7 linked regions of the Homo sapiens genome follow. The protein of the gene in region 4 purifies or fractionates together with the protein of the main gene of each other region. This does not show direct contact. Each region holds a gene or a part of one and is shown on either strand. Other genes may lie near its edges. The genes, in order: MOCOS, BCKDHA, CYP24A1, HSD17B8, OGA, QDPR and ARFIP1.

What was found.
Region 1: the proteins of HSD17B8 (region 4) and MOCOS purify together in Homo sapiens (affinity purification with mass spectrometry; 4 studies listed by BioGRID and IntAct, with this or other methods). This does not show direct contact.
Region 2: the proteins of HSD17B8 (region 4) and BCKDHA purify together in Homo sapiens (affinity purification with mass spectrometry; one large-scale study listed by BioGRID and IntAct). This does not show direct contact.
Region 3: the proteins of HSD17B8 (region 4) and CYP24A1 purify together in Homo sapiens (affinity purification with mass spectrometry; one large-scale study listed by BioGRID and IntAct). This does not show direct contact.
Region 5: the proteins of HSD17B8 (region 4) and OGA purify together in Homo sapiens (co-immunoprecipitation; one large-scale study listed by IntAct). This does not show direct contact.
Region 6: the proteins of HSD17B8 (region 4) and QDPR fractionate together in Homo sapiens (co-fractionation; one large-scale study listed by BioGRID). This does not show direct contact.
Region 7: the proteins of HSD17B8 (region 4) and ARFIP1 fractionate together in Homo sapiens (co-fractionation; one large-scale study listed by BioGRID). This does not show direct contact.

The regions. Positions count from the first base shown.
Region 1 is NC_000018.10:36,190,497-36,193,996, reverse strand, and holds part of MOCOS (molybdenum cofactor sulfurase), read right to left. Parts: intron 2,876-3,500; exon of another isoform or gene 2,794-2,875; intron 531-2,793; exon of another isoform or gene 1-530. UniProt on the Homo sapiens protein: Sulfurates the molybdenum cofactor. Sulfation of molybdenum is essential for xanthine dehydrogenase (XDH) and aldehyde oxidase (ADO) enzymes in which molybdenum cofactor is liganded by 1 oxygen and 1 sulfur atom in active form.
Region 2 is NC_000019.10:41,404,318-41,407,817, reverse strand, and holds part of BCKDHA (2-oxoisovalerate dehydrogenase subunit alpha, mitochondrial isoform 1 precursor), read right to left. Parts: intron 1-3,500. UniProt on the Homo sapiens protein: Together with BCKDHB forms the heterotetrameric E1 subunit of the mitochondrial branched-chain alpha-ketoacid dehydrogenase (BCKD) complex.
Region 3 is NC_000020.11:54,156,987-54,160,486, reverse strand, and holds part of CYP24A1 (1,25-dihydroxyvitamin D(3) 24-hydroxylase, mitochondrial isoform 1 precursor), read left to right. Parts: intron 1-1,363; coding exon 1,364-1,530; intron 1,531-2,322; coding exon 2,323-2,401; intron 2,402-2,901; coding exon 2,902-3,099; intron 3,100-3,197; coding exon 3,198-3,308; 3' UTR 3,309-3,318; exon of another isoform or gene 3,319-3,500.
Region 4 is NC_000006.12:33,203,378-33,207,331, forward strand, and holds HSD17B8 ((3R)-3-hydroxyacyl-CoA dehydrogenase), read left to right. Parts: upstream 1-1,277; 5' UTR 1,278-1,291; coding exon 1,292-1,343; intron 1,344-1,524; coding exon 1,525-1,742; intron 1,743-1,843; coding exon 1,844-1,960; intron 1,961-2,069; coding exon 2,070-2,162; intron 2,163-2,262; coding exon 2,263-2,348; intron 2,349-2,450; coding exon 2,451-2,535; intron 2,536-2,756; coding exon 2,757-2,799; intron 2,800-2,997; coding exon 2,998-3,072; intron 3,073-3,260; coding exon 3,261-3,277; 3' UTR 3,278-3,454; downstream 3,455-3,954. Other genes in the region: zinc transporter SLC39A7 isoform 1 precursor, read left to right, coding at 164-436. UniProt on the Homo sapiens protein: Required for the solubility and assembly of the heterotetramer 3-ketoacyl-[acyl carrier protein] (ACP) reductase functional complex (KAR or KAR1) that forms part of the mitochondrial fatty acid synthase (mtFAS).
Region 5 is NC_000010.11:101,811,945-101,815,444, reverse strand, and holds part of OGA (protein O-GlcNAcase), read left to right. Parts: intron 1-1,838; coding exon 1,839-1,890; intron 1,891-2,317; coding exon 2,318-2,415; intron 2,416-3,138; exon of another isoform or gene 3,139-3,193; coding exon of another isoform or gene 3,194-3,197; intron 3,198-3,500.
Region 6 is NC_000004.12:17,505,591-17,509,090, reverse strand, and holds part of QDPR (dihydropteridine reductase), read left to right. Parts: intron 1-3,500. UniProt on the Homo sapiens protein: Catalyzes the conversion of quinonoid dihydrobiopterin into tetrahydrobiopterin.
Region 7 is NC_000004.12:152,782,954-152,786,453, reverse strand, and holds part of ARFIP1 (arfaptin-1), read right to left. Parts: intron 1-3,500. UniProt on the Homo sapiens protein: Plays a role in controlling biogenesis of secretory granules at the trans-Golgi network. Mechanistically, binds ARF-GTP at the neck of a growing secretory granule precursor and forms a protective scaffold.

The sequences.
Region 1 (3,500 bases), on a different chromosome or scaffold from region 4:
GTCCACATTTTAGCATGTATCAGAACTTCATTCCTGTTATGGCAGAATAGTATTCCATTGTATGAATATACCACATTTTATCCATTCATCTACTGAGGAATATTTGGATTGTTTCCACTTTTGTGTATTATAAATGATTGCTGGTATGAATACTGGTGTACAAGTTTTTGTGTGGATGTGTTTTCTCTCATTTGGTGGGTTGTCCTTTCACTTTCTTGATGGTGTTCATTGAAACATACAAGTTCTTTTTAAGTTTGATAAAATCCAATTTGTCTATTTATGTTGTTGCATTTTTGGTGTCATAAGAAATTATTGTCTAATTCAACAAGGTCCTAGTGATTTATGCTTATATATTACTCTAAGAATATTATACTTTTAGCTGTTTCATATTTAGGTATTTGATCCATTGAGTTAATTTTTGAATGCAGAATGAGGTAGGGGTCCAAGTTCGTTCTTTTGCATGTTGATATCCAGTTGTCCCAATATCACTTATTGAAGAAGTTATTTCCCTCGTTGAATAGTCTTGGTATCTGTTGAAAATCAATTGACCATAGACATATGGGTTTATTAAATTAAAATTATATTTCATTTGTCTATATGTGTATACTTATGCCAATATCACACTGTCCTCATTCTGTAACTTTTTTTTTTTTTTTTTTTTTTTTTTTTTTTTTTTTTTGAGACGGAGTCTCGCTCTGTCGCCCAGGCCGGACTGCGGACTGCAGTGGCGCAATCTCGGCTCACTGCAAGCTCCGCTTCCCGGGTTCACACCATTCTCCTGCCTCAGCCTCCCGAGTAGCTGGGACTACAGGCGCCCGCCACCGCGCCCGGCTAATTTTTTGTATTTTTAGTAGAGACGGGGTTTCGCCTTGTTAGCCAGGATGGTCTCGATCTCCTGACCTCATGATCCACCCGCCTCAGCCTCCCAAAGTGCTGGGATTACAGGCGTGAGCCACCGCGCCCGGCCCATTCTGTAACTTTGTAGTAAGTTTTGAAACTGCAAAGTGTGATTCCTCTAACTTTGATCTTCTTTTTCAAGATTGCTTTGAGGTCAGGTGTGGTGGCACACACTGTAATCTCAGCACTTGGGGAAGCTGAGGTGAGTGGATCATCTGAGGTCAGGAGTTCAAGACCAGCCTGGCCAACATGGTGAAACCCCATCTCTACTACAAATACAAAAATTAGCCAGGCGGTAATGGCGTGCGCCTGTAATCCCAGCTACTTGGGAGGCTGAGGCAGGATAATCACTTGAGCCTGGGAGGTGGAGATTGCAGTGAGCTGAGATTGCACCACTGTACTCCAGTCTTTGTGACAGAGTGAGACTCTGACTCAAAAAATAAAATAAAACGATTGCTTTGGCTATTCTGAGTCACTTGCATTTCTATATAAATTTTAGAATCAGCTTGTCAACTTCTGCAAAAAGGCAGCTGGGATTTTGATAGGCATTTCATTGAATCTGTATATTAATTTGGGGATTATTGCCATGTTAACAATATTAAGTCTTCCAACCCATCAGTACAGGATATCTTTCCATTTATTTAGGTCTTCTTTAATTTCTTTCAATGATGTTTTACAATTTTCAGTGTATGTGATACTTCTTTTGATAAATTTTTTTCTGTGTATTTTATTATTTTTGATGCCTTCGGAATTGTTTTTCTAATTTCATTTTCATAGTATCTATTGCCAATGTATAGAAATTGAACTGATGTTTGCATATTGATCTTGTATCCTACCACTTGGCTAAATTTGTTTTTAAATTCCAATAGTTTTGTGTGTGGATTCCTTGAAATTTTTTATACACAAAATTACATTATTGGCAAGTAGAGATAGTTTTACTTCTTTCCAATCTGGATCCCTTCTATTTTGTTTTCTTGCCTAATTGCCCTGGCTAGAGCCTTCAGTACAATGTTGAATAGAAATGGTGAGAACAGGCACTTTTGTCTTGTTTCAAACTCAGGATGAAAGTTTTCAGTCTTTCACCACTAAGTATGATGTTAGCTGTGGGGGGTTTTGCAGATGACCTTTATCAGTTGGTTAACTTTTCCTTCATTCCTAGTTTATTGAGTGTATTTGCATTCAAGAAATATTTATTGAGCACCTACTATGTGTCAGGCATTGTTCTAAGTGCTGGAGACACAGCAATGAACAAAATAGAAGATAGCATGATAATGGCAGAGAAAGACCTTAAACACAAACTATGTCAAGTGGTGAGACATATGGCTCACATGTGTGTGTGTGTGTGTGTGCACACGTATTTTAAGTGTACTGGACACAGTGACTCATATCTATAATCCCAGGATTTTGGGAGGCCAAGGCAGGATTGCTTGAGGCCAGGAATTTGAGACCAGCATAAGCAACATGTGAGACCCCATCTCTATAGAAATAAATAGCCAGGCATGGTGGTGCACACCTGTAGTCCCAGCTACTTGGGAGGCTGAGGCAAGAGGATAGCTTAAGCCCAAGAGGTCAAGGCGGCAGTGAGCTATGATCATGCCACTGCATTCCAGCCTGGGTGACAGAGCAAGTCCCCGTCTCAAAAAGTGTGCACATGCACACATAAATATGGACAACCACTGGAAAGATACACAAGACATGAGTGACAGCAATTGACTCTGAGGTAGACACAGTGGCTGCAGCTGGCGTGAGAGGGAGGCTCCCTGGTGATTCTTCACCCTCCTTTGGCAACTTTTGAATCTGATACCACTAAATGTTGTATCAGTCCATTCTCACATTGCTATAAAGAACTACCTGAGACTGGGTAGTTTATAAAGAAAAGAGGTTTAATTGACTCACAGTTGCACAGGCTGTATAGGAGTCATGGCTGGGGAGGCCTCAGGAAACTTTACAATCTTGGTGGAAAGCGAAGCAAGCACATCTTCATATGGTGACAGGAGAGACAGAGAGAGACAGAGAGAGAGAAGGTGCTTGTGAAGGGGCAGGTGCTACACACTTTTTTTTCTTTTTCTTTTTTTTTTTGAGAGATAGGGTCTTGCTCTGCCACCCAGGCTAGAGTGCAGGGGCTCAATCTTGGCTCACTGCAACCTCCACCTCCCAGGTTCAGCCTCCCAAATAGCTGGGATTACAGGCATGTGCCACCACACCGGGCTAATTTTTTTATATTTTTAGTAGAGACTGGGTTTTGCCATGTTGGCCAGGCTGGCCTCCCAAAGTGCTGGGATTACAGGTATGAGCCACTGCACCTGGCCAAAGAAAGTTTTTTTGTTTTGTTTTGTTTTTTTGTTTTTTTTGAGACAGGGTCTCACTCTGTTGCCCAGACTGGAGTGAAGTGGTGCAATCTCAGCTCACTGCAGCTCTGACTTTCCAGGCTCAAGCAATTCTCCCACCTCAGCCTCCACAGTAGCTGGGACTTTAGGCATGAGCTACCATGCCTGCCTAATTTTTGTATATTTTGTAGAGACGGGGTTTCACCATGTTGCCCAGGCTGGTCTTGAACTCCTGGGCTCAAGTGATCTGCCCACCTCAGCCTCCCAAGTGCTAGG
Region 2 (3,500 bases), on a different chromosome or scaffold from region 4:
GGTCAGTAATGGTGGCTTCACTTCCCACAGATGTTAAAGAATGGCAGGGTTTGCCACAAGCTGGATCTCACACATGCGTGCTCAAATGTGTCCCTCCGTCTTCCTTTAACTGCAGTGAACAAGCTGTCCACAGTTCTAGCGGGGTAGCATGTTCAGTGTGTGTATTTATTTGCATTTGTAGTCGTGAGGAAATTACACTCCCAATGGCAGGGCAGATTCAGGCCTGGCAATGTCACTGCAGGCCTCCCCTTGTGAGGAGGAAACAGCCGGCCTCTTGCAGCACAGTGCTTCCCCCTTCTGAGTACCCAGCATAGCCAGACACTGACCTAGAAGATTGCTTTGTTTCGTGTCTGTCTCCCACACACACCACAATCCCAGGAAGGCAGAGACAGCGTCCAGGTTGCCTTCACAGCAGGCACTCAAGAGGGAATTCCTGAGTGAATGCATGAATGGGCTGTTAAGTTCCCTGGCTCTGGAGTTCAACTGCCCTGGGTTCTAATTTCTTAGCTCATTGTGTGGCTCTCTGCAAAAACACTTCACCTCTCTGAATTTCCTTATCTGTAAGAAGGCTGCAGAACACCACGTGAAAAGTTGCTAAGTTAACTCACACCAGGGGTTCAGCACCGATCTGGGACGTATTACATACTCAAAACTTGGTAAGAGAGAGAAAAACAAAATCTAGGAAGGTGAGAAGTGGGAGAAAGGGAAGTGACTACACTGTATGAGATAGGGAAAAGAGGAGCTGGGAAGAACTAACTGCACCTTAAAGTGGATACTAAAATCAAACTGTGGCGATGTGCAGCGGCTCATGCCTGTAATCCCAGTACTTTGGGAGGCTGAGGTGGGAGGATCACTTAAGGCCAGTGGTTCGAGATCAGCCTAGGCAACATAGTGAGTCCAGCCTAGGCAAAACCCTCGTCTCTGAAAAATTTTTAAATTAGCCAGGAAGGCTGGGCGTGGTGGCTCACGCCTGTAATCCCAGCACTTTGGGAGTCCGAGGCAGGCAGATCACCTGAGGTCAGGAGTTCAAGACCAGCCTGGCCAACATAGTGAAACCCTGTCTCTACTAAAAATACAAAAAACAGCCGTGCATGATGGTAGGTGCCTGTAATCCCAGCTACTTGGGAGGCTGAGGCAGGAGAATGGCTTGAACCTGGGAGGCGGATGTTGCAGTGAGCCAAGATGGCACCATTGCACTCCAGCCTGGGTGACAAGAGTGAGACTCTATCTAAAAAAAAAAAAAAAAATTAGCTGGGAATGGTGGCATTTACATGTAGTCCAGATACTGGAGTTGCGGGAGGCTGAGGTGAGAGGATGGCTTGAGCCCAGGAGGTCAAGGCTGCAGTGAGCCATGACTGCACCATTGCACTCCAGCCTGGGCAACAAAGTGATACCCTGTCTCAAAGAACAATAAAACCAAACTGTGGCCCCAGCAGATACTCCAGAGAGGGAGACTGAGGCACAGGGGAGACGGCATGCTGATGGAAGAGGACCGAAGGCTGAAGTCTTCAGACGGGCACTAAGAGGGGAGGCCAGAGTCTGAGAACAAACCACTGTGTCAGGGCAGGACTGTCAGCCTCTAGAGGCTGGACAGCTATCTTCACGGCACCCCAGTGTGCTCCACATACTGCAGCTGGGTCTCGGCTGTACCCTCCTCCCCTCTTTGCTGGGCTGGTGGAGATAATGGTAGTCCCCAGCCCCAGGGTTGCTGCCCCAATTCAGTGAGCTATGCAAAGGGCTCCACGCTGTGCCTGGTCCTGAGGAAATGCTCCATAATGGGAGTGGGTGGCCAAATGCCTGCAGAGGAAGGATGCGACTCCACCCATCTGTTCCTCTAGTTTTTGGAAGGGGGTGGGGGAGTCTGTCCCGGTGGCCAGTGATTTACAATGGCAGAGGCTGCACAGATTTACACAAAGCTTCATGCCACGTCCTCTCCCACCATGCAGGAAAGCACAACCTGCCCGCTCTGGATGGTCTGGTCTGCCCAGGAAGTACTGGGGTGACCCTGGTGGAGTCACTTGAAGGCACCATGGCTAAGCGCATGGACTCTAACTGAGCAGACCGCTGCCTGATTATGTGACTTAAACTCCCTGAGCCAAGTGCAGTGGCAGACGCCTGTAATTCTAGCTACTCTGGAGGCTGAGGCAAGAGGATCACTTGAGTCCAGGAGTTCGAGGCCAGCCTGGGAAACATAGTGAGACCTCGTCTCTACAAAAATAAATATATAAATAAAATTTAAGGCCAGGTGTGGTGGTTCACACTTGTAATACCAGCACTTTGGGAGGCCAAGGAGGGAGGATCGCTTGAGCCCAGGAGTTCAAGACCAGCCTGGATAACATGGCAAGACCCCATCCCTACAAAAAATTAGCTGGGCATGGTGGTGCACACCTGTACTCCCCAACTACTTGAGGGGCTGAGGTGGGAGGATCGCTGGAGCCCAAGAGGCTGCAGTGAGCCAAGATCACACCACTGCACTCCAGCCTGGGTGACAAAGTAAGACCTGTCTCAAGGAAAAAAAAAAGAAAAAATTTTTAAAGAAAAACTCCCTGAGCCTCAGTTTCCTCCTGTGTACACCGAGGGTGGTATAAGTACTTATCTCAGGGGTTGTCATGAGGATTAACCGAGTTGACCTGTGTGGATTGCTCAGCCCAGTGCCTGGCACATAATGTTTCATAAACACAAGTAGTGAGTAAGTATTTCTCATGATTGTTCTTGTTAAACAGATACTGAACATTTGCTCCAAATCATGCCCTGAACTGAAGGCTAGAGACAGGGAGGGATGAATGACAAACACTGAACACACAAGTTATAATCAAGACAGGTGATCTTACTCACATTGCTTCACCTGACTAGCCTAAAAAAACAAAAAAGTGTCAAGTTGACAGGTAAGCCAAATGAAAATACAGAAATAATATGGCTGGGTGCGGTGGCTCATGCCTGTAATCCCAGCAGATTTGGGAGGCTGAGGCAGGTGAATCACTTAAGGTCAGGAGTTCATGACCAGCCTGTCAGGCTGATCACGATGGTGAAACCCCATCTCTACTAAAAATACAAAAATTAGCCAGGCGTGGTGGCACGCACCTATAGTCCCAGCTACTCAGGAGGCTGAGGCAGGAGAATCGCTTGAACCTGGGAGGTGGAGGTTGCAGTGAGCCAAGATCGCACCACTGCACTCCAGCCTGGGTGACAGAGTGAGACTCCATCTCAAATAAATTAATAAATAAAATTAGGCTGGGCGTGGTGGCTCACGCCTGTAATCCCAGCACTTTGGGAGACCGAGGCGGGCGGATCATGAGGTCGGGAGATCGAGACCATCCTGGCTAATAAGGTGAAACCCTATCTCTACTAAAAATACAAAAAATTAGCCGGGCGTGGTGGCGGGCGCCTGTAGTCCCAGCTACTCGGGAGGCTGAGGCAGGAGAATGGCGTCAACCTGGGAGGCAGAGCTTGCAGTGAGCCGAGATTGTGCCACTGCACTCCAGCCTGGGTGACAGAGCAAG
Region 3 (3,500 bases), on a different chromosome or scaffold from region 4:
CTTGGTGCTCATTTGTGTGAGTGGCACATGGCACTTAGCAACAGCGTCTTCATGTCTGCGGAGGTGGACACAATGATCATTTTCAGGAAATATTTGGCTTAAATTAGCAAAGTACGGCCTAAAAAATAAATACATATGACTACTAGTGGTGAATATTATGTAGCTTAAAGCTACATTGGCTGTTTCCACCAATATTTTTTCTCTAGTCATTGCCTGTGCAGAGGAAATAAAAGATGCCACTTAAAAGGGTGTGGGCCTTTGTCAGAAACTGTAGCTGGAGTACTCAGCTCAATGTTTGAATTTCTTATTTTTGGTGTTGGCACCCTCGTATGAGGGCTGTTTACATGTGGTTGTAACCCTCAGTGTAGGTAGTGCCTGTTTATTTTTGTGGTGACTTTTTAGGGTGTGGCCAAAGGAACTTTTAAATTTCAGAAATGCCATTTATTGTCCATTTCCACTATAACATTCTCTTAAAGCCTCTCATTAGCAACACCCTGAGGATCACCATCCCTCTCTGTTTACTCCATTTTTATATGAATGTTTTTTATATCAAGCAACTTTTAATTAAATGTTTATTTTGAGATCATTGTAGATTCACATTCAGTTCTAAGAAAAAATAGAAAGGGATCCCTTGCATCCGTTACCCAGTTTTCCACTAATAGTAATGTCCTGTCTAACGAGAAAACGTTGTCACAATCTGAAAATTGGCATTGATTTAACCCACTAATATTCTCATTTCACCAATTTTACATGTACTCATTTGTGTTCGAACAATTATTGCGTCAAACTGTATTTTAGGTCAGGCACAGTTGGCTCATGCCTGTAATCCCAGCACTTTTGGAGGCAGGCAGATCACCTGAGGTCAAGAGTCTAAGACCAGCCTAGCCAACATGGTGAAACCCCATCTCTACTAAAAATACAAAAATTAGCCAGGCATGGTGGTGGATGCCTGTAGTCCCAGCTACTCAGGAGGCTGAGGCAGGAGAATCGCTTGAACCCAGGAGGTGGAGGTTGCAGTGAGCCGAGATAGTGCCACTGCACTCCAGTCTGGGTGACAGAGTGAGACTCCATCTCAAAAAAAAAAAAAAACTGTATTTAAATGTTCTAAAGCAGCTGATTAAAGGATTATACTTTGATTCCCTCAGTAAATAATTTAAAATATATCCTTAATTGATATGTTTTATGAAATAAGTCTGCTTTTTTATATATTGGATTTGTCTAAAGGCGTAGCTATAAGGACGCGTGAAAGAGCTTCACTGATACATTTGCAGAATAAGGTGGTGGGCATCACCTTTTTTTCAGCTAATAGTGGTTTAATGCAGTTATTTACAAAAACTCAAGTTTATGTCCATTTGGCTTGCAGACAGCAAACAGTCTAATGTGGATTCTCTACAATTTATCCCGTAATCCCCAAGTGCAACAAAAGCTTCTTAAGGAAATTCAAAGTGTATTACCTGAGAATCAGGTGCCACGGGCAGAAGATTTGAGGAATATGCCGTATTTAAAAGCCTGTCTGAAAGAATCTATGAGGTAAGAGCCTATCTCTGAGCCAATATAAATGTGTTAGAACACTGTTCTCGTAAACACAAAACAAGTGGTCCCCTACTCATGGGCGGCTTCCCCTAGCTAATTAGAAACAATTATCACACTGCAAAAAAATCTTTGGAGCCATATTTCTTTTCTGGCACTCATTTCCTAAATCATTTGGGCAAATTCTATTAAATCTTGGAAAGCCAGTGCCCTCCCCTTTAATTCAATAATCTTGCTACTCTAATGAACGCTGTAAGCACTAATTAAGATAGGGGCATGATTGAAGGTTATGAGATGGAGGCTCACAAAAGAGCTATATTATTATATAATAGGACACAGAGAAAGCTTTGCTTTTGAGCCTCTGGTATAAAACATTTTTTGGAAATTCTTTTTACATCCTTTTGGGAAAACAAAACTCACAACATTTTAGGATTAGAAGGATACTGTCAACTTTGTGAAGAGTAGATTGGAGAAACATAGAACAAACATCACGCTTCAAGGGCTAGCACGGAAACATACACATTTTAGTCTGGAATGAAGGGGGAAAACCAACGTTAACAGTTTACTAAACAGCCTTGCACTGGGGTTTTAACTAACTCAAGAAGATGAGAGGAACAAGAGATACAATTATTGAGAAGAAAAAAACAACTTCTTTAGGAAGATCTGTGATCATGCTGCCTCTTTGAGTATGCACTTGGGCAGCATTTATTTAATCCAATCTGCATTCCCATTGACACTTCAGAGAGAACTTAGACTGTGCTCACCTTTACATCTTTGATTTTATCTTTTCAGGCTTACGCCGAGTGTACCATTTACAACTCGGACTCTTGACAAGGCAACAGTTCTGGGTGAATATGCTTTACCCAAAGGAGTAAGTAGAATTTGTATATTCTATACCTTACAAAACCTTGGAAGATACACTTTGCAAATATTCACCAGATCTCCCTAGACTTTGTACTGGAAAATATTCATTTTGGGAATGCAGAGATGGTAGAGAATAGTTGACATGTTGCATAGTATAGAATTAGAATTCACGGCTATGGAGACAGAGACCTGCATTCAGTTTCATCTTTTATCTGTGTTGTCTTGAGTGAGTTACATAATCTCTGTGAGCCTCAACTTCGTCTGTAAAAGGGGTTTAATAACAGAATCTGCTGCGCAGGGTGGTTGTGAGTATGGTGCACAATTCTAAAGCCCTTTACCTATTTATTACCTGGCACATTTTAAGCACTCAGCGCATGTTGGCAACCATCATTATTATAAATTTGTGGATTTGGCTTTTGATTTGTAAGGTGACAACTTGTGTCAATTTTGCCATTCAAAGGTCTCTTCTGGTTATTTTAAATACTATGTGTCTCTGCATGTGTTTAGACAGTGCTCATGCTAAATACCCAGGTGTTGGGATCCAGTGAAGACAATTTTGAAGATTCAAGTCAGTTTAGACCTGAACGTTGGCTTCAGGAGAAGGAAAAAATTAATCCTTTTGCGCATCTTCCATTTGGCGTTGGAAAAAGAATGTGCATTGGTCGCCGATTAGCAGAGCTTCAACTGCATTTGGCTCTTTGTTGGGTAAAACCTTTACCGGTTTCTGCAATTATGTTCTGTGCTGTTTCACAAGGCAGAAGAAGAGAGGGGTAATTCTGTTTTTGTGTGCGTGTGCATTACAGATTGTCCGCAAATACGACATCCAGGCCACAGACAATGAGCCTGTTGAGATGCTACACTCAGGCACCCTGGTGCCCAGCCGGGAACTCCCCATCGCGTTTTGCCAGCGATAATACGCCTCAGGTGAGCATCTAGGCGGTTCATTATCCTCTGCAAGGTAGTGAGAATGACGAGGGATGAGCTATGCTGGGAAGTCAGCCAGACTGGGGTTTGAATCCCAGCTCACCTCTAACTTGCTGGGTGACCTTGAGCAGTTCCCTAAACTCTCTACTTCCTTTTTTTTTTTCATTTGTAAAATGATGACC
Region 4 (3,954 bases):
TTTTTCAGAAATTGTCTATTCTAGACTGCTCCCTCTTCTCTTTTTATTTTGATGTTTAGTTTCCAAATCCATGTCCCCTATACCTATACCCCACCAGCCACTTCTAAACCACTGATAATCTTTAGCTATTGGTGAGTGCCTTTTTCTCTTTTCTGCCCATCAGGCGATGCGTCTGCAACTACTGACAGCAGTAGGGGCACTGGCAGGCACAGCCTGTGCCCTTCTCACTGAAGGAGGAGCAGTGGGCAGTGAAATTGCAGGTGGTGCAGGTCCTGGCTGGGTCCTGCCATTTACTGCAGGTGGCTTTATCTACGTAGCAACAGTGTCTGTGTTGCCCGAGCTGCTGAGGGAGGCATCACCATTGCAATCACTTCTGGAGGTGCTGGGGCTGCTGGGGGGAGTTATCATGATGGTGCTGATTGCCCACCTTGAGTGAGGGGTGGATAAACTACCCCTGCCCCAAACCTCTACCCCTAACTCCAGGTCAGGGGTGCGTAGAGGTTGGGGGCCCTGGCCAGGGACATCTGCCAAAGGAAGGAACTGTAGCCTGGGAGAATGGTTACTTTGGCATTAGGGCCTTCAAGGGCTGGCAGTCTTACAGAGGCTGGAGCGGTGAGAATGAGAGGCCAGAGGGACCATAGTGTTGGGCACTGTCTGACCATGTTGCATTTGGAAGGCTAAATGGGGCCATGAAGAAGGCTGGAAGGGACAGGGGGTGATGGCAGCCTACCTGGTGTCCCCTACCCCACCTGTTCTCGGAGAACCAAGTTGCTACACAGGAAGTTCTCCAAGGTCCAGTTTCCTTTCTCCCACCAGTTGGTGGAGGCTTCAGGGAAGACCAGAGTCCTGGACAGAGAGGGTAACAGGAGGAGTCGGGGATAAACATCAAACATCAATCGTGTGTCCTGATTTGGGAGTGATTGGGGGGATGGGGTGGGAGAGGGTTAGTTGGTATTCTCATGGCCTGATTTTTTTTGTTTCTATTCCTTTTATATCACTGTGTTTGAATCGAGGGGGAGGGGTGGTAACCGGAAATAAAGACCTCCGATCTTCCGCCCCACATGCAGTCTTTGTCTTTTTGGGGGGAATGGGGCCCCTTGTCTTCTCCACACCCGGGGCCCCTAAGCAGCAGTGTCGGGCCACGCCCCCTCGGTGGGAGGTCGGCCTGCGCTGGTGGCCGCAGATGGCCTAAGGCTGGCGGGCCTTTGATTGGCCCCGGCTTTGCCCTTGCCACGCCCCTCTGCGCTGGGATTGGCTTAGTGCTGGGATTCCCACCCACCCACAGCCCGCCATGGCGTCTCAGCTCCAGAACCGACTCCGCTCCGCACTGGCCTTGGTCACAGGTTGAGGGGGTTCTTTCCCCGGGCGGTTTGGGGTATTGGAGTGAGGTCAGGGGCGTGCCCTTGGAGTGCGCGGCCGCTGTGACCTCTGGCCCCTTACCCACATTTTACTTTCTGCCCTGTGACCTCTGATCCCTGCCCTCTCCTCCCCGTGCCCGGTCCGGCGTGTTCTGTCCTACCTCAGGTGCGGGGAGCGGCATCGGCCGAGCGGTCAGTGTACGCCTGGCCGGAGAGGGGGCCACCGTAGCTGCCTGCGACCTGGACCGGGCAGCGGCACAGGAGACGGTGCGGCTGCTGGGCGGGCCAGGGAGCAAGGAGGGGCCGCCCCGAGGGAACCATGCTGCCTTCCAGGCTGACGTGTCTGAGGCCAGGGCCGCCAGGTGCCTGCTGGAACAAGTGCAGGTGAACGCTAGGCCACTTTCCCCCTCTAAAGCTCTGATATTGCCTCCACTGCCCCGGCTTTTTGTGGGGGGTTTTTGATGCGTAACCTCCCCCTCCCATAGGCCTGCTTTTCTCGCCCACCATCTGTCGTTGTGTCCTGTGCGGGCATCACCCAGGATGAGTTTCTGCTGCACATGTCTGAGGATGACTGGGACAAAGTCATAGCTGTCAACCTCAAGGTGGCGATCTCTGAACCTGCGACGTTTGGCCCCCTTAGCCTGGGGAGGGAGTTGGAGGAGGGCTGTCACCCCAGCTGATCTTTTCTCCCTTGTTACCCTTTCCCGCCAGGGCACCTTCCTAGTCACTCAGGCTGCAGCACAAGCCCTGGTGTCCAATGGTTGTCGTGGTTCCATCATCAACATCAGTAGCATCGTAGGAAAGGTCAGGTTGAGTTGGACGAGGTCAGCCAGCCAAGTGGTATAGAGAGGAGAACCCCTCCTTGAGACTCCTGACTCATTCCACATCTCTGACTCACCTATAGGTGGGGAACGTGGGGCAGACAAACTATGCAGCATCCAAGGCTGGAGTGATTGGGCTGACCCAGACCGCAGCCCGGGAGCTTGGACGGTTGGTCAGATGCTTGAGGGTGCTGGGGAGCACCTGGGGGGTCTGAGGGAGGTACCAGCATTCAGCCCTCTCCAGAATCGGCAGCCACTCTCCTTCCCACAGACATGGGATCCGCTGTAACTCTGTCCTCCCAGGGTTCATTGCAACACCCATGACACAGAAAGTGCCACAGAAAGTGGTGGACAAGGTAGGAGGCTGTGGGTGGAGGGCAGAATCATTCAGAGACTCAATCTCTCTGGGCTTCACAGAGAGAGAGAGAGAGAGAGAGAGAGAATACTGGGCACAGTTCCTGGCAAACATTAAATATTCAATGAATGTATGAGAAATGAAGACAAAAAAGGGTCACAGACTCAGTCTTCAAAAAAATCCATAAAAGAAGCTTTCACCCACATGAGTATTTCCTTACAGATTACTGAAATGATCCCGATGGGACACTTGGGGGACCCTGAGGGTGAGCACTGAATGTAGTGGGGTCCCTGGGAAGGGGGCCTGAATGAAGAGATCCCCAAAGTTTGGGGATTTTCTAGGGGACTGGTGGTTGGTGTCTGTGGAGAGGTTTGTGGGGAGGGATGTCTTTGGTGGGAGATTATGGCTGTTTTGGGTCTATGGGAGTGAGCAGAATTCTGCCCTCTCCCCACCATTCTCATAGATGTGGCAGATGTGGTCGCATTCTTGGCATCTGAAGATAGTGGATACATCACAGGGACCTCAGTGGAAGTCACTGGTATGAGGCCAGCATGGGGAGGGAGAGGGCAGAGAAGTAGAACCCAGACTATATGAGAAAGCAAGTAAGGGGAGTCTGGAGCCACTGGGAAGGGCAGAGGTTCCCAAGGCCAGGGACAGAAGTGGGTACCCCCTAGCCCATTTGTGTCTCCACCCATGCATCTGTCCAAATGTTTCTGCCCCTCCCAGGAGGTCTTTTCATGTAACTGCCTCAAGGACCCTGGACTCTGCTCACCCCCCCACCACTCTGCCTGGCCTCCTGCTGATGAGGACTCTAAGTTCCCAGGATACAAAAGGGGTGGCAGTGTATGGTTCAGGAATGCTGAATATGGGAAGCAGGGGTGCTTGTGACCCTAATAAATTCCAAGTCCTCTTCCCTGCCACCTCCGGCTCTTCTTGTGTCCAAGCCCTCAGACCCTTCCCCACCTCCCCCTCCTTTCCCTTTCCCGAAGGATTGTTCCCTTTCTCTGCCTGGTCTCCCAGGGCAACCCCCGCCGCCGGGTGTGAGAGGAAAGAGTATGTGTCACTGTGTATGCGTGACACTCCGGGTCTTTTTGAAGGGAGGGGTTCGTGCGTCACCCCTTTCCACTGGTTCTGCAGCACCAGTCCCCTCCCCCCAACTCCCTGGGTTCTTATGGTCCCCAAGGGTGATTTGTTCATGGCCCCATCTTGGTGTCCAGTCTGGCCTTGAAAGGGGGTCTTGGAACAGGTGGCCCTCCCCCACCCCTCTCCTTTCTCTGAGTCCCCCCCTCCCCTTTCTCTCCACCTTACAATAGCTGCAGCCGGCCTGGGGTCGGATGGGGGGGATTAGGGGAGGGGGCCAGGATTAGGGGAATGAACCAGCCGATGAAAGGGGCTGGAGAGAGCAGGAGGGAGGGGGCTG
Region 5 (3,500 bases), on a different chromosome or scaffold from region 4:
GGCGTGGTGGCGGGCTCCTGTAATCCCAACTACTCGGGAGGCTGAGACAGGAGAATCGCTTGAACCCGGGAGTTGGAGGCGTAGATTGCATTGAGCCGAGATAGTGCCACTGCACTCCAGCCTGGGCGACAGAGTGAGATTCCGCCTGAGAAAAAAAAAAAAGAATATTTTGTATCACTTGTGAGAGGCTAACATTAGATTGTCCAGATGAAAGTGCTACAGTTATACATTGGTATGTAATGAATTTTAATTTGGTCTGTCATTGTCCTTTTTGTGGTGCAGAGGAGTCATTCTGCCTAGAGATTGGAGCTAAAATACATTGCAGAAATTTGTTTTAGACTAGTCTCTTATGTAGATTGTGTGGGTTTATGTAGAACATTTTGTGTTCAGAATGCTTTTATTAACCTTCTTCATGGTACTCTTGAGAGGCTGTCCTTATCTCTTACTGATGATTAGACTGAGACAAGTGGAAAGTAAAGGTTAGACAAGATGTAAAGTGTGTGGTTTGAGCTGTGATGAGCACACTAGGGAGTTCCAGATACCAGTTTGATGCTTATTCAACCATTTAGGTTATCGGTCTGCGAGTTTGTTTTCTGCAGTGTGTGCATAACTAGTGTTTTGTCCTCTTAGAGGATACTCTGGGGACATTCTTGAGTTTTCTTTGTTTATTCCTTTCCGTTTAAGGACCAGAAGTAATATTCTTGAATTTTCATTTGTTCAGATCTTTGCTCTGTAATTAAGATTGCGTGAGAGTTTGTTGTTTGGGCCAGTTAGGCTGTTGAATTTCTTGGGAATGTGGTTTCAGGCATTTTTTGGTCCCTTTGATTATATCATTGTATGTGGAACTTTTTTTGAGAGAGAGAGTTTTGCTCTGTCACCTAGGCTGGAATGCAATGGCGCGGATCTTGGCTCACCGCAGCCTCCGCCTCCTGGATTCAAGCAGTTCTCCTGCCCTAGCCTCCCAAGTAACTGGAATTCCAGTCCTGGCCAGGAACTTTTTTTAAAAAAGAGGAGCACGATCATAAAATTAAGTCAGATTCTTTCCTAATCCTATCTCTGATTTGTTTTTAATTGCTTTACCTGTTTATCTCCCCTCACCCTTTTGTTGTTGTTGTTTGAGATGGAGTCTTGCTCTGTAGCCCAGGCTGTAGTGCAGTGACGCAGTCTCGGCTCACTGCAAGTCCGTCTCCCAGGTTCAAGTGATTGTTGTTTCTCAGCCTCCCAAATAGCTGGGATTACAGGCATTTGCCACCATACCTGGCTAATTTTTGTATTTTTAGTAGAGACATGGTTTCACCATGTTGGCCAGGCTGGGTCTGGAACTCCTGACCTCAAGTGATCTACCTGCCTCAGCCTCCCAAAGTGCTGGGATTACAGGCGTGGGTCACCTCACCCGGCCTCCCCTCACCCTTTCTAAAGCAGTTTTACTATCATTCTAGGAAGTAATTGTTACTGTTGGCAGCTTGTATTACATTGCTGCCGTTCCCCATTATAAGATTGAGATCTCTTAAAAAATTGGAATTAAATATATTTGGACTTTATCAACAGTGGAAAGATGATAGATGTTTGTTTTAAAATAACTATCACCTAAGTAACTAATGTCATGGTAGAAAAAATAAAAAAAATTACCTAAGCAAAAATGGAATAAAAGTCACCTTGTAACGTCACCACCCAAAGATTAAAGGAACCTTAGTATTTTATTAAATATCCTTCCGATTTGGTGTATTTTATGCTTTTTACAAAATAGGATTGTATTATATGTTTTGTAACTTGCTTTTCTCAATAAAGCTTACCACATTTTAAAACTGAATATAATTTCATTCTTACTTTGAATCTAGGATTTTATGGAAGACCTTGGGTTATGGAACAGAGAAAAGAACTCTTTAGAAGGTAAATCTTCATTATATGAAGGAGAGAGGAGAACCTTAAACTCTTAACATTTTCTTTTGTTTGAAGAAATACTAACAGTGAATAGCCCAGGTGCATTTTGATGGTTTCTCAATTGCAGAAGTTATTTTACCTTGGTCCCTTTTTTCTTCACCTAGGCCTTTGATTTTCAAACTTTTCCTGGGGAGCTGAATAAGTTTTGGGCTTCACCTTACCCAGAGCTGTTGTGTTTTTTAAGAGTGTTTTGTATGTTGGCATACATTGTAATACTTAATTTTTTTAAATTCCACTGATTACAAAAAGGTTAAAAGCTACTGTCATAGAATATTAGCTTTGTATGAGATGGAGATGCTCCAAGAAGAGGGAAATGGAGATTGACAGCCTATGAATGTTGCCTGTTTATACATATGTAATTTTCTTTCTCCTTAAGGCTCCAGAAATGGGAATTAAATACATACTTGTATGCCCCAAAAGATGACTACAAACATAGGATGTTTTGGCGAGAGATGTATTCAGTGGAGGAAGCTGGTAATCTTTTTCTTTTTATCCATAAATTCAAAATCTGTGAAGAAAACGGTTATATTTTAAATGTAGTTGTACAAGAATTTTATGACATTTTATTTTTATTTTGTAGGTAGTTTCCTTTTCTTCTATCTGGTAACTATTCAGTTAGCTGAGATTGAAAGAGTGCTCTGCGCTAGCAAGGTCATGACCATATGTGTGATATCATGGGCGTGCTAGGCTGACTCCATCTGTTCTGTGGTCATAGATTGTGCTGCTTACTTCTGCCAGTGGATTAAACAGTGGGCCACTGGGCAAAGAAGTGCTGGAGCTGGGCTAGGCCCAGGGCAAGGCAAGTGAGGCACGTACCTTGGGTGCAAATTTTAAGGGACCCCCAAAAAGTAATCAACATAAATAATATTTTATGCAATTTTTTTAAAAAACCAAAATTAATGCAGAAATTCATGATGTACACAATGCTAAAATTTTAGGTAAAGACAGGATCAGCACTACTGATTGTTCCTTTTGCTTCAGGCTCTAGTATGGCTTGGCCTTGTCAGCAGTTACTGGTCCTTAAACCCTAGTCCAGGAAAGTGGGAAGCCATTAATAGGCTGTCTTTGGGTTTTGTTTTGTTTTGTTTTGTTTTTTGAGACAGAGTCTTGCTCTGTCCCCCAGGCTGGAGTGCAGTGGTGCGATCTCGGCTAACTGCAAACCTCGCCCTCCCGAGTTCAAGAGATTCTGCTGCCTCAGCCTCCCAAAGTGCTGGGATTACAGGCTTGAGCTCCTGTGCCCGGCCGGCCTGCTATGGGTATACTTAACGTTGAGTTGGTTACATAAAATTGATAAAAAGTAGTATAGCATTGAACCGCCAAATTAGAGAGGTGCTTTTCTTTGGGAACTTGTAAATGGTGAAACATTTTTGTACTTGAAATTAAATGGTATACGCATATAGCTAACAAGATATTTGGTTACAGAGCCCAGCCAAGGCACAGAAGGCTGAAAGTTTTCTTGAATTACAAAGAAGCAATTACAGCTTACCCCATCTCCATCTAGTGTTGTGGTTTACTACTCTATTTAAGTGTGCCTTCAACTTAATTACTTTCTGGTGGTG
Region 6 (3,500 bases), on a different chromosome or scaffold from region 4:
TGCCTCCTGGGTTGAAGCAATTCTCCTGCCTCAGCCTCCTGAGTAGCTGGGATTACAGGTGCCTGCCACCACCCCCAGCTAATTTTTTGTATTTTCAGTAGAGACGGGGTTTCACCATGTTGGCCAGGCTGATCTTGAACTCCTGACCTTGTGATCCGCCCGCCTTAGCCTCCCAAAGTGCTCGGATTACAGGCATGAGCCACCGCGCCTGGCCTGTTCTTCCTTTTTTTTAAAGCTGTTGTTTCTCTAACTAGGAAAGCCATTTGTGTTCATTGAGGAAAATTTGGAAAAAGTGAAAAATGATACAAAGATAAATTATATAATCATTTTGAGTTAGTTCACTGTTAACATTTTGGCCTATTGTCTTTTTCTATGCATATTGTATGTTACTCCTTTTACAAGTTTAGGTAATTTTGTATTTTATAGTTTATGGTAAGCTTTGTTTTTTTTTTTTTTTATACTTAAATAATTCTCCAGATTACTGAAAAAACCTCTTTGTAGATGTGTGATATTCCATTTTATGGAATGGCCACAATTTATTTAGTTTGTTTATTGTACATTTGAGTTTTTTGCAGGATTTTTGTTTTACTATTGTCAAGAATGTTGTGATGAACGTCTTTGTCTACATATCTGATTATTATTGTTTTTTGTTTTAAGAGAGTCTTGCTCTACTGTTGACACTGGAGTGCAGTGGCACAATCTCAGCTCACTGCCACCTCTGCCTCCCGGATTCAAACAATTCTTGTGCCTCAGTCTCCTGAGTAGCTGGGATTACAGGCATGCACCCCAATGCCCAGCTAACTTTTTTGTATTTTTAGTAGAGACAGGTTTTTGCCATGTTGGCCAGGCTGGTCTCGAACTTCTGACCTCAAGTTATCCACCCACCTTGGCCTCCCAAAGTAATGGGATTATAGGAATGAGCCACTGCACCTGGCCCACATATCTGATTATTTAGGATACATTCTAAAAAGTGGAGTTACCCAGTTCACAGCAGGAACACTAACAAAACAGGTTATTTTTAATTATAAAATGATATGCATATTATAAAACAAAAGTCCAACAAAACTACGTAAATATAGAAATAAACTGTGAAACTGTCCCTTTTCTCCCCATCATAGTATCATTTCCCAGAAGGATGCACTATTAACAGTTTGATGGATATCCTGGTATAAATATCTTAGATGCTCTAGGCTGGGTGCAGTGGCTGACACCTGTAATCCCAGCACTTTGGAAGGCTGAGATGGGCGGATCACGAGGTCAGGAGATCAAGACCATCCTGGCCAACATGGTGAAACCCCGTCTCTACTAAAAATACAAAAATTAGCTGAGCGTGGTGGTGCACGCCTGTAGTCCCAGCTACTCGGGAGGCTGAGGCAGGAGAATCACTTGAACCTGGGAGGCAGAGGTTGCAGTGAGCCAAGATTGTGCCACTGCACTCCATCCTGGGTGACAGAGTGAGACTCTGTCTCAAAACAAAAAAAAAAAAAAGAAAGAAAAATCTTTGATGCTCTTAAGCAGTGCTTAACTTTCTTGAGAAGCCCTTCTGGTGAGCTGCCTGGATGACTTTTGAGTCAGGTTCTCACTGTGTTGCCCAGGCTGGACTGGAACTCCTGGGCTCAAAGGATCCTTCTGCTTCATTCTCCCGAATAGCTGGGACTTCCTGAGTAGCCACTGTGCGCAGCTGACTCTGTGTTTAATGGTTTTTAGTGCTGTAGCCCACATTCCCAAGGATAACTTCACATCACTATGTGAAGCGCCTTATTTTCCCAACCACTCAGTGTGGCAGGCAGGCAGGCCATTTTACAGCTGTGAAGACAAGTTTGCGCGACTAAGTGACAAGGCCAACAAGCTACTCAGTGGTGGAGTCAGGATCATAGGTCTCCAGATACGAACTTTAATAAGTTCAGGTGCCACTTGGTCTGTACGTGGGTCTGCTTTTCATTTAGTTGCACTTTCCTTGGTAATCTCAATACTGATGTTTTATGATCCTTATCTGGTTTTTATAACAAATTTTTAAAATTTTAGAAGTGATGCATGTATGATATAGAAAATACAAATAAGCAAAAAGAAAAGGGAAATCATTTATAGTTCTACCATATAGTTAATCATTTATTTATATTTCCTTCCAGTCTGTCTCTCCAAAATATACATGTATAAATCTATACATTTTGAACATAAAACTGTGAGCACAACTCTGCTACTCATTTGCTCTTTCTAAAGTGTCAGTTTGACATAGATTGGAATGTAAAAGCCAGATGACTTATTTTAGCACTTCATTTTTGTTGTTCTTATTTTTCTCACTGTGGTCTCAATGTTCCCATACCTAAGTCATACAGATTGACCTTAGTGAATTTAATAGTGAAAGTTGACATGGCATCATTGTTAGTTGCCAGGCACCATTCTCAGTGCTTTATTTTCATTAACACGTGTAGTCTTCATTACATCCCCAAACAAAGCTTCTAATTTTATCCTCCTTTTAAATGGGGGTAACTGAGGCACAGAAAGGCCCTGGTATTTGTCCAAGGTCAAACAGATAAAAGGTTGCATAGCCACTATTTGGACATGGGCAGTGGGGGTCTGACGGCTGTTCTCTTAACTGCTATGCTAAGCTGCCTTAAAGCAAAATAGTTTCATGTGAATAAAGTAATAAAGGCCAAAATGGCTGGGTGCAGTGGCTCATGCCAGTAGTCCCAGCACTTCAGGAGGCTGAGGCAGGAGGATCACTTGAGCCCAGGAGTTTAAGACCAGCCTGTGCAACATGGCGAAACCCCATCTCTACAAAAAAATACAAAAATTAGCTGAATGTGGTGGCACACAACTGTAGTCCCAGCTACTCGGGAGGCTGAGGTGGGAGGGTGGCTTGAGGCTGGAAGGCAGAGGTTGCAATGAGCCGAGATCATGCCACTGCACTCCAATCTGGGCAACAGAGCCCAACCTTCTCTAAAAAACAAACAAAAAATAAAGTAATAAAAGCCAAAACTAAATGGAAGGGCGGTTCCTGGGCTTGGAGAGCAGCAGCCCTGCCAGGTGCGGGTCTCTGTAATTGGTGTCTCTTCAGTGTCTCTTCTGCTCTGATTAATTATAGGTTTCTAATGTCCCTGTAGATTGAATGTGGAGGTTGTCCCCACCCAAGGCTTGGCAGTAGAGTGCATCTCTAAGACAGAGATTGAGAGATGCGTTTGTGCTTATAAACTTTTCTTTGAAAATCTCTTCCTTCTTCTACTACTCCACCAAAGGAAGAGGAGTACCTTCTCCACCATACCCCCAACCTTAAGAATTTCTGAACAAACAGCATAACATTCAGTTTTGTCATGAAACTGGGGAAAGAGGTAATCAACTGAAATGTTCCTACTGGGAGAGACACAGGGTGTTGATTTAAGTCTTTTTTAAAAAAAACTAAATGTAGAGATGAGGTCTTGTTATGTTGCCCGGGCTGGTCTTGAACTCCTGGGCTCAAGTGATCCTTCTGCCTCTGCCTCCCAAAGTGCTGGGACTACTGG
Region 7 (3,500 bases), on a different chromosome or scaffold from region 4:
GGAGAGGGAATTAAGGATCACTTCTAGTTTTCTGGATTTTACAATGAAAAGATAATTGTGTCATTCACTGAAAAAAGGAACAAAGAAAGAACCAACGTTGTGCAGTTTTGTAGGGAGGGAAGGGGAAATCAGTTTCATTTTAGACATACTGGATTTGAGATACCTTTAAGATATTCAAGAAAGGATGTCAACAAGACAGCAAGACATACAGATCTACAGCTCAAAGCAGACAGAAAACACTCATGCCCTTAATGAAGCTGACATCTTTATCCTAGAAAAGCAGCTAACTATAATCCCCAAATATCCAAGAAAAATGTTAGACTTAGACTTTGACCATCTGGATTTAGTTAAAACAAAAAGCTGAGAGAGAACATGGCAATAACATTTCATCAGCTAAAACAAAAACTGCTAGGCACCATGGGTAGCAGATTTTTAAACTCGTGGTTCAACAATATAGGAATTATGTATCACATCATATCATGTCGCATTTTAAAGTTTTATCAGGGCTGGCCAATGTTGTTGGAAATGTTCTAAATTTGCACTGTCCAATAAAGTAGCCACCAGCCACATATGATACTGACACTGAAATGTGGCTGGTACAATGAGGAACTGAATCTTTTATTGTATTTAATTTTAACTAACTTAAATAGCTACATGTGGCTAGCATCCCTGGCATTAGACAGTGCAGGTTTACAGCTTTCTCATATATTTCATCTGATTCCCCAATACCTACTTTTCAAATTAACTGGGAGAGAGGTGTGGTGGGTGGAGAGATTAGAGGAATAGAAAAAACATCCTTTCCATTTTCTGCTTATTACTTGAATCTTTATTTCAAGAATTTATAATACTTATGCTGGATGCAGTGGTTCATGCCTGTTATCCCAGCACTTTGGGAGGCCAAGGCGGGAAGATCGCTTGAGCCCAGGAGTTCAAGACCACCCTGGGCAATATATAGCACTGAAACAAAACAGATAAGGTCCTGGCCATTTTAGAGATTACAGATCACGGGCTTAAACCCAGGGGCTCTTTCCACTGAGGGTATAAATTCCTGATCCATCCCTTTTTAGGTATGTGACCCTGGACAAAGCACTTTACCTAAATCTCAATTTCTTTATTTCTAATGTGGTGATGTTATCTGCTCTACCTATTTGGTATGGCTGGAGTAAAAATAAAATGAGGATGTATGTGAAAGTGCTTTGTAAATTATTACATGCTAAACAAACAGAAGGTATTAAACAGAGTAACATATTCCTTTTCTCTAGGGCAAAGATTTCCAAACAGTGTGCCAAGAATGGATTACAGATGTGCTGAAATTGTGACCCATTCCCCCACTCCACAGCTTCCAAGGAACCAAGGAGGGCCTGGCTCTAGTCTGCCATACAATTATAATCATTTTTTATGTGTGCCATGATGAGTATCTCAGGCTAGCAGAAACTGGAGTTGGCGAACTGACTCCCTCCTCTGGAAGATTTAGGGCTTACCACTAACTCTGCTGCTTTTATGATCCTGTTCCAAAGGCAGTATGTCACTGTTCCCCAGGGACCAATGAGGCTCAAGCTTCAACATCAAGGAGCTGCTAGTCCAATGCTATCACAGATATACAAAAATAAAATATAAATTCTTATCTTAGGTGAGAACATGGTAAAGACACTGCCATATTTTCACAAAAGATTTGAGCAATTGCCTGTTTTGCAACTACCTTCAGATCCCCAAATCTTTGTCTTTCAAGAGAGGATCTGATTTTTTCCAAATACCCAAAGTTATTCAGATTCTGGTGACTGAGGTCACGAAGTGACGAAGCCAGGCAAGAACTTCATTTTTGTATGTCTCAATCTGAACCGACAGTCATACTAGAAGAAGATTTCAAAGCAGATTGCCTACTCTGAAAAACAGCATTCACTTAAATAAGTATGTTCATTAAGGGAAAAAAGTGTATTTCATAAAGAGACTTTATATTCCTTTTTCAGGAACAACTAAAGGTTTGAGCAACACCTGCCTATGCCCATCCTAAGACAAAGGCTTAGAAGGAATGGAGGAGAATGGAATGAGAGATGGGAGAAAGAGGAGAATAGGAATAAAGGAAAAAGAAAAAGAAAATAAATACTTTTGTCTCATAAAGAATATCTGTTAATCTGCAAGAGCCATTCGGCAGCTTCCATGACTGCCAAAAGCTACTAAAGATCAAGGAAAACAAAATTATTTTCAGGCCAATAGTCTTTTTCATACATCCAGAAGTAGTGCTACATATCTGACTTTTAGATTGTCATGATCCTAAGTCATCAACTTCCATATTAAGTGGAACAACTCACTTTCCATTCTGTACAAATATTTTAGTTTTTCATCCATAACCATATTAAAGTTTCCTGTTTAATTTACTCCTTCTTCCATTCTGAATTTATTCTTTCCATCCCAAATGTATTATTCTAAAATTTATTTATACTTCCAGACTCTTACAATGCCCAGTTTATTACTTATAATCTTCATTTTCACATTTTCCCCTCCTCATATACACACACACCATCTGCTTATTATTTGAATCTTCATTTCAAGAATTTATAATACTTACAATTCTTTATTTCAAGTAGGTGTGTGTGTTCTAACACACACACACACACACACCAGAGACTTATATCCATCCCCATAGGAAACCCCTACCAACTGCCTCCACCAAATTCACTTTTTTGTCAAACTTCTCAGTATGATATTCAACCAGATGTTCATCCACTGAAGATTAAGAAAGGAAACAACCTTTTCTCAACACCTGATAGAAAGTCAGGTGATATATCTCCAACTCATTTCAAAAAGGACATAATGGACGCATGGTAGAAGTTGTCTACAGTAGTAGTCTAGAGTCAGACAACGTAGGTGGAGCCATGCACTGGCTCCACCAGCGCAATTCTGAGCAGACTACTTTAGCTTCAGTTAATCATTCAGCTTTATTTTCTTCACCTACAGAAATGAGGACTTTAGCCACTTTATAAGGTTATCATTTGAGATAATAATGTAAAGCACTTAGCTTAATGCACATGGTAAGCAAATAAATGTAACTGTTACAGTGTTAGATATAAAATATCTTCCGAATTTGTCATTACCTTAAAAGGAAACTAATTTAGCATAAGCTAGTCTGTTGTTGATGTTGTTTTTGAGATGGAGTCTCACTCTGTTGGCCAGGCTGGAGTGAAGTGGTGGGATCTTGGCTTACTGCAGCCTCCGCCTCCTGGGTTCAAGCGATTCTCCTGCCTCAGCCCCTCCCAAGTAGCTGGGACTACAGGCATGCAACACACACCCGGCTAATTTTTTTATTTTTAGGAGAGATGGGGTTTCACCATGTTGGCCAGGTTTTGAACTCCTGACATCAAGTGATCCACCCGCCACAGCCTCCCAAAGTGTTGGGATTACAGGTGTGAGGCACCGTGCCCAGCCTAGCATACGCTATTCTCTATAAACTTATGTTGACTGCTCCCCCAAGTGAGGTTGCTAGACAGAGGAAAACTTATTCT